Linked DNA regions of Homo sapiens: region 1 is reported to be linked to region 2. The links are microRNA targets in miRTarBase. Many come from high-throughput screens and were not tested one by one. Region 2 holds a microRNA gene; the other region holds the end of a gene's coding sequence.

Region 1 (4,000 bases), not on the chromosome of region 2:
CCAGGAGTTTGAGACTGACCTGGGCAATATAGTGAGACCCCCATCTCTGCAAAAAAATAAAAAATAGCCGAGTGTAGTAGCAGGTGCCTGTAGTTCCAGCTACTTGGGAGGCTGAGGCGGGAGGATGTCCTTTTGCTCAGGAGGTTAAGCCTGCAGTGTACCGTGATGACCTGACTGCACTCCTGCCTGGGTGACAGGGCAAGACTCTGTCTTAAAAAGAAAAGGGGGGCGTGCAGGCGTGGTGGCTGTAATCCCAGCACTTTGGGAGGCTGAGGCAGGCGGATCACCTGAGGTCAGGAGTCTGAGACCAGCCTGGCCAACATGGTGAAACCCCATCTCTACTAAAAATACAAAAATTAGCGAGGCGTTGGATGTGCACCTGTAATCCCAGCTTCTAGGGAGGCTGAGGCAGGAGAATTGCTTGAACCTGGGAGGTGGATCTAAAAAAAAAAAAAAGGCTGGGCGCGTGGCTCAAGCCTGTTGACACCCAGCACTTTGGGGGGCCGAGGCGGGCGGATCACGAGGTCAGGAGATTGAGACCATCCTGGCTAACACAGTGAAACCCGTCTCTACTAAAAATACAAAAAATTAGCTGGGTGTCGTGGCATGTGTCTGTAGTCCCAGCTACTCAGGAGGCTGAGGCAGGAGAATCGCTTGAACCCAAGAGGTGGAGGTTGCAGTGAGCCAAGATCGCACCACTGCATTCCAGCCTAGGTGACGGAGTGAGACTCTGTCTCAAAAAAAAAAAAAAGATTTTTAATAACTGAGGGTTGGGGGTGCTGGGGGCATCTGATGGGTGGAGATCAGAGATGATGGTGCACAGGACGCCAGCGCAGACTGTCTAGCCCACAGTGGCACTGCAGTGCACAGCACAGCCTGCCTTGAACCCGTCTGGGACAGAGCCGGGGAGTGGATGGCGGCGTGGGGGACAGAGCCGGGGAGTGGATGGCGGCGTGGGGGACAGAGCCGGGGAGTGGATGGCGGCGTGGGGGACAGAGCCGGGGAGTGGATGGCGCCGAGAAGCGAGGCTCATGAGGTTGCTGGCTGTCAGCTCTCTAAGAGAAAAGTCCTGTGCTCAGCGGAGCTGAATTTATTGGAGCCACTGCAGTGAGGGGTCCGGCCTGCATGGCGTGGGGGCGAGGACGCACACATGACCAGGACCAGGGCCCCCTGTCTCGGGCAGCTCCTGTCCAGCACAATTGGACTCCACCATCTTGTCTTCTCGGCTTCTCCTGGGCCTCCCTCCAGGCGGATAACCGCACCGTTCATCACGGGAACTTCCCGAAAGACCCATCAGCTCTTTTCCCAAAAGCATCCACAGTTTACAACCCCAAAACCATTGGAAGCCCTGGCTGTGAGCCCCTCCCTGAGTGGTGTCCACCAGTCTTACCCTGTGACAACCGTGAGAGTGTCCTTTCCCGGGCCACAAGCCCCACCTGCAGGAGCTCCCCGTCCTGGCCTCCTGCTCCACTGTGGTCAGAGTTACGGCGAGCTTGCACCGTGATGACGGGGGACCCAGCTCTGTCTTGCCCACAGGGCTGCCAGGTGGGAACTGGCTGGGTTGGGCAGAGTTTAGCGCAGATTGACCCAAGAACAGCCGTGGGTCTGTGCAAATAGCCTGTAAGAACTGATGGACAGACGCCCGTCCTGATCTTGGATGAAGACACTGCACATCCAGCATGAGGGACGTCCTTTTTGTCAATGGAGGGCGAGCCTGGATGTGCGCACACAGGAGCGTGGTTACGGGAGTCCGTTCTTTTAGGCTGTTTGCAGTCACAACCAGAAGCAAGTGTTTCCTGCCCCAGCCGGTGCGTTTGCTTGTTCCCACGGCCTGGGAGTGCTGGCGGTAGCTTTCCTCCTGGCGGGGCCTGAGTTGTGACACACGTCTGGCAGGCCCGGGCCTTTCTCTGCGGCATCAGAGGGCGTCGCTGTGGACCGGCAGATTCGTTTTCAGTCCTGGGTTGAGCACATCTCGCACCTGGAGTCCTTGTGAGCACCTGTAAGGGGCCTTCGTGCGGCCATGAAGGAAAACGTGTCGACCTGCAGAGGTCACCGTGGGGACCCGCAGAGTGACCACACAGCAGCAGCTGGTAGAAAGGACTTTATTCAGAAATTGGTGCCAGGACGGGAGGGAGCCATGCGGACAGTCGCGCTGAAGCCTGAGCCCAGTGCTGCCCCGGGGTCAGTCCTGACCGCTGGAATGTTGATTTGCACTGAGCACTGTCTGTTAGATACAAAATCTGAAAATGCGGGCGTGGGTCAGCAAAACATAATCCATATAAAAGCCTAAAAAAAAGTGAACTGCATTTCGTGGCCAGGACGCCGACTTCCTCTCATGTTACATCGAAGCGGGGCCCGGATGTCTCCGGTGAATTTATGTGGGAAAACACATCTTGACATTAAAAATGCAGCGATTTGTCACAGGTCACAGTTTTCCTAGAAATGCCACTAGCTGGCTGCTCTAAAGAATGACTAATTCTAAAACTCAAAAGCACAACCCTGGGTCTTGTGATTGGCACCGTGAGAGCCCCACGGAGCTGGGGCCGTGCCCGGGGCTCTGGTCACCCAGCTGCAGAGGCCAATGTGGAGCTGACTGCGCGGGACTCCCATGGCCCTGGCCAAGGGGCTCCACACCAGCTGCCTGGGGTCCAAGAACCTGAGCAAGGGCAAGGGGCCGTGGAGGCAGCGCACTTCCTGTCTCTGGCGAAGCGTGAGTGTGTGGCGAGCTGTGGAGGCAGGGCTGCGGGCGCACATGCATGGCTGCTGGAGGCGGTGGGCAGTGGCGGTCCCTGGGGCATGAGATGGGTGGGGGCACTCTCAGGGACCCCCGCCACAGAGCCTCTGTCTTGGAGCTGCTCTGAGTGTCCTTTCCAGGAAGCAGGGCCTTTGCCCGGGCATGACCACCTCACCAAGGGCTGTTCTAAGCTGGGGGGCCCTGGGCCCTGGGGGAGCAGGCCCAGCCCAAGGTGCCTGCTCCAGCAGCAGGCCTTGGGCACCTGGGGGTCTGGGCTGGGGAGGAGGGGCACTGGGCAGGGAAGGGGAGAGCGGTTCTGGGTCTGGGTTGTGGGGGGTGAACCCAGGCAGGGTCTCGGACCGGAGGTCTCGGAGTCCCTGGGAGCTGCAGTTGGCCACTCAGAGGTCAGCTTTGGCCCTTCGTTGCTCAGCCAACCCAGGCTGGCTCAGAAACCTGCTCAGGGAGGAGCTACTCTGAAGTTTGTTGAGTTGGCGGTGGAGGCTGTTGCTGTTTTGTGGGGGAGTCACTGAGAGCTGGGTAAGAGCCACTTATCTGTGTGTGAGAGGCGCAGACAGGCACAAAACTCCTGGGAAGCTGTCTTTCATTTTCATTTTTAAATTTAACTTTTTAATTCTAGCAGAAACACGCAAACCTCCAAGACTCTTGTGCCCGTCCTGGCTCCGTCTGCTGGGAGGAGACCAGCTCTGCCTGTCCCCATGGGGTCCCCTGAGCCTCCACCTCCTGGTCCAGCTCCCCAGGGTTCGGGGGCGGAGGGGCCTTGATAACGGCCGGGCCTGAGACGCGGCTCCCACCTCCCAGCCCGCCCCCCACAGTCGGATTCGGATCTGGAATTCCACACCAGGCCCGAGCTCGGCTACTGGAATGTAGCCTTCATCCTCCGTAGCTTGTCCTGAATCTTCCGTGAGTGCTTCTCGCTGGAGACCTGGTGGAAGTTGGCCCTGCTATCTGCGGCGAGTGTGGAAATGTCGGCACCGCTGAAGCGGGCAATCCTCTGCTTGAGGTACGACTGGAGCTTGGGGTCGGGGCTGAAGGTGTAAGGGTTCTCCTGGAACGCGTGCACCTGGCTCACCACCTTTGCGATGTTCCTTCCGTTGAGGAAAGAAGAGACGTTAGTTTGCACAGGGCAGGGGCGCGGCTTCCGTGGGGAGGGAGTCCCCCCGCGTTCTTAGGAATCATTTGGACTAAATCTTTTCACCGTGTAAATTCTGAAGGGTGGGTTGTCTGTATTTATTGGCGAGGTGGAAA
Region 2 (4,248 bases):
TCCCATTGGATATGGTATTGTGGAGGACTCTAAATTTCTGAGTCAGCACCCTTCATTTCATGTTGTTTATAGACTAGCTTTGTAACCAGTATTCTACTCAATAGCTAGAGTATTCACAAATACACTAAAATAATGAAGAATAAGCCACTGTGTAATTAAATATGAATAATGAAGACAGCACTTATAACAGTTTGACTTCTATTTCAAGTGAAAAACAGGAAGTTGCCTAAAAAGTTGCTGTGTTTAAAAATGGGTCTTTTTATGGATTTATAATACAATCAAGGGACCAACTTTTGCAGTTTGTTCTCAAATATTAGGAGATGTAGTTTCTTCATCATTTGAAATGATGACATGGAAGACAGCATGCATAAGATCAAACACCTTTTACTCAAAATACAGAATTAATGGGCTTGCTCATATTCCAAGGATGTGTCTTCTTAAACACTGGTTTGTTTCATAGTTCTAAGTTTTTTGGAGGGCCTGACTTAATCCAAAAATACTGTGGCATGCCTACAAGAGTTAACCTCTTATATTTTGAAGTAGAACAAAAAGGGAACATATATTCTGACAGGAGATTCTATCATAATCGCTCAGAACACTGAACTTTTTCAACTTGATGAAAGGTTTCTCCAAGTTAGAAATACTATAAGTAACTCTTTCCAAAAGACTGCTCGTATGTGAAGAGTGAAAAAACAAACTAAACAAAAGCAAAAACTTAGGACTAAAGACTAACAAATGCATATGAAGAAGGAAAGTGCCTTTGCTCAAGGTCATTGTGCTAACAGAATGACTTGCTTAGTTCACGTGCAGATATTTGTTGGCAAATGTTAAGCGATGCAGAAAAAAAGGCACTACATAAATGTGAAAAACAAATAAGTAAAACCATAAACATGAATGTTGTAATTTGATGATTATGTGCAAGATCAATCAAGTAGTGAAAGTATGTAGTATTCAAGTGTTTAAAGTGGCGGCCTGGGCATGGTGGCTCATGCCTGTAATCCCAGCACTCTGAGAGGCTGAGGTGAGAGAAATGCTTGAGGCCAGGAGTTCAGGACCAGCCAGGGCAACACAGTAAAACCTCGTTTCTACAAAAATTAAAAAAAAAAAAACGACTATGCTCAAGGTAGTGAGGAACCACTTCTACTAAGCCAGATGGAAATTGCTAAGAACAGAAAGACGACGATGTCATGACGGCTGGTTAACTATGGGAGCAGCTGGGGTTTGAATTTCTGTTAACAGTAGGAGAAAATAAGGACTGGAGACAGAGGGGGAATCTGAGAAATTCTCTATTTTGGTGGCTAAGCTAACACAATCTACTCACAGCTTTTTTTCATTTGATTACCATTTGAAACAGATTACTTCTCCATTTGAGGGTAATCGTGAAGCAAGATTTCAACTCATGCTCTATCACTACCCATTCCAGGCCACAAATTAAAATAGCCTATTACTACTTTTATACACACAATAAAGAGATCTTCCATCCCAATCTTCTCCATGCTTTTTTTTTTCTCAGCAAAGTTCATGTAAACCAGTAGGTCATAGTAAATCCTAAAATGTATTCCCACAGTGAGATACTTGGAACATTTTCCTTCTGGATTTTATTAAACATAATGTTCTAAGCATTATGAGTGCTCTAAGGTATTTCTTGAATAATAACCCAAACTGCAGAGTGAAAGTAAGTGGCAATTAAAATCCCGAGACAGACGGGAACACTGAGACTAAGAAATAACAGCATCTGTTCCTGACGATGGCTGGACTGCTGATCTAGCTTGGGGTCAGCAAACTTGGCCTGAGGGCCAAATCCAGCCCACTCCCTGTTTTCATATGGCCTGCAAGAGCCAAGAATGGTTTTCACAGTTTTAAATGGTTGGGGGAAAAAAATCAAAACAATATTAGCATATTAAGAACATAAAAATTAGATGAAATACAAATTTCAATGTCCATAAAGTTTCACTGAAACACAGCAAGATTCATTTGTTTATATATTGTCTATTGCAGCTGGGTATGGGAGAGCTGAGTAGCAGGGACTTTGAGTATGGCCTACAAAGCCTATATTTACAATCTGACCCTTTAGAGAAAAGGTTTGCAGACCATGAGCTTGATCAGAACTTCAAATACCATCTGTGGTGAAGGAGCTGGTTTGTTTTGAGTATTTGTTTTCTAACCCATCATAGATCTGAGCTAAGCTTTTGTAGAATACAAAAATCATATACTTTGGATGTTGCAGAGATGTCAGATTGCTATAAATTTCCTAAATGTTTACTCTCAATTTCTGTATTTATCTTCTTGCATACTCAAACAGATATTTTGTGGACTGGCACCAGTCTGCAGGTGGTTCTGTGTAGGTATTCTTTGTGTTCTTTAGATCACACAAATTTTCTAAAAGCACTGATCTAGAGAACACAAGAATACCTTCACATAACTTTTTGGAAAACCTTACTTACTCCTTCCCTATATACTCCTTCCCTATATATTTTCGATATGATGACCACTAAAAATATCAGTAAATAAATATATTGCTTTGTAAATATATTAACTAGATAAAATTATAGTTTTTCCATGAATCTTTTTCAAGCATTATGCTTTATGCTTTAAAATTATAACCAGTTTCTTCCTTACCAGCTACCACATTATATATTTTTACTGTTCTCTTAGACTTTACATAAAAGAATTTTTTTTTTTTTTTTTTTTTTTTTTACATTTTGTGCTTTGGGGAATAACTCAAATTCCATAAACAAAACTATTAGTACAAATGTTTTCTGGACAATCTGTGCTGTGATTTTGGAAATTGTGTGTGAAAGAGGAGAGTAGCTGGGCGTGGTGGCTCGCGCCTGTAATCCCAGCACTTTGGGAGGCCGAGGAGGGTGGATCATGAGGTCAGTTCAAGACCAGCCTGGCCAAGATGGTGAAACCCTGTCTCTACTAAAAATAAAAAAAATAGCCAGGCATGGTGGTGGGTGCCTGTAATCCCAGCTACTCGGGAGGCTAAGGCAGAGAATTGCTTGAACCCGGGAGGCAGAGGTTGGAGTGAGTTGAGATCACGCCACTGCACTTCAGCCTGGGCAACAGAGTGAGACTCTGTCTCAAAAATAAAAACAAACAAACAAAAAAGAAGAGAGTGAAAGAATTTGAGTCCTTGCACAGACAATAACTGTTTTTTATGTTTAAACTTTTTAGTTTCTTATGTTAAACTTTTTATGTTTAAACTTTCAAAAGGTTGAATAAATTTCATCTTATGCTTGCATTATAATAGCAAAGTTCCTTGATATGTCAAAGGCCACAAAAGTAATTTTTAGCTTAGGTACAAAACGTGCCTTGGGCCTGTTTTATATGATACTCCTTGGTTTTAGCACTACATTAAAAAAAATGAATGTGAAAAAAATCATTTCCATGAAAGTTTTTTAATTGGCTCAAAGTTAGTAGCAATTTACTTTCAAATTTCAATCTTTATCTCTCTAGGGAAATACTTAATTCTACTGCAATTTTTATTTAAGAAATGAAATAATTTCTAAACATTTTTAAACTTTAAGAAAGATGAAACTCTGTTATTGTGCCAATGACTTTTTATTATTAGGTGTCAGATGATAAAACATTCAAATAAGAAACAGCACTGGGATTTCACAGTGTCAGGAGAAAGGAAAGTCTATAAAAAGAAACTCAAGGTGTGTTTAAGTATGTGAAAAGAGCAGATAATCCCTAAACCTGTTTTATTTGAAGGCAAATAGGAAGATGCTTGCTTTATTTGTTGTTACAGAAGAATGTTGTTGCTAGCAAAGGATAAAATCTCAAAGCAGAGGGAGAGGGAATATAAAATGGCTGTAGATTAAACTTCTGCAAATGTTCACTTTACTACGCAGCTCCACTGTCATAAAACAGTCAAAATAGTAAGATATACTCATTCAGAACAATGACACAATGTTTATAAATATTTATATGTATGCTGAACTAGACCATTACTAAAAGCTGCAGCTGGGGTATAGAAAGAAAACTAGGATTTGATTGGAGGCCTTATTTTGCAAATTACTAGGCTCCATGATCTTGTGGAACTTACTTAACCTTTCTGAGTCTCAGTTTCTTATCCATAAAATAAATGAGATTCTACCTACCTCTGAAGAATTGAGGAGGATAATATACGTGTCTTGTATAAAGCACTATGCAAATGTGAGGGGTTATTGTTATTTAGTAGGGAGCTCAGAGAATCTTAATATGTATTATATTTAAATTTTCTATAAATAAGTGAACTTTTTA

The links. The annotated mature microRNA hsa-miR-581 reads UCUUGUGUUCUCUAGAUCAGU and lies in region 2 at 2,388-2,408, opposite strand. An mRNA with a match to its seed (bases 2 to 7 or 8) in the 3' UTR can be bound and repressed. Matches are read on the target gene's strand: a 7mer-m8 pairs with bases 2 to 8, a 7mer-A1 pairs with bases 2 to 7 and ends in A, and an 8mer does both.
Region 1: the mRNA of KNDC1 is a reported target of hsa-miR-581. Seed matches in the 3' UTR shown: 7mer-A1 at 3,396-3,402 and 7mer-A1 at 2,505-2,511.

The regions. Positions count from the first base shown.
Region 1 is chr10:133,224,499-133,228,498 of GRCh38, reverse strand. KNDC1 (kinase non-catalytic C-lobe domain containing 1) reads right to left here. Exons shown (of 30, transcript NM_152643.8): 30 at 2,087-3,840. The coding sequence ends at 3,609. Among named protein-coding and RNA genes, the nearest start is that of UTF1, 3.7 kb to the left of the region's middle. RefSeq lists an enhancer at 2,781-3,404.
Region 2 is chr5:53,949,177-53,953,424 of GRCh38, forward strand. It overlaps MIR581 (microRNA 581), which reads right to left and starts at 2,423; the gene lies at 2,328-2,423. All of the region lies in intron 4 of ARL15 (ARF like GTPase 15), which reads right to left.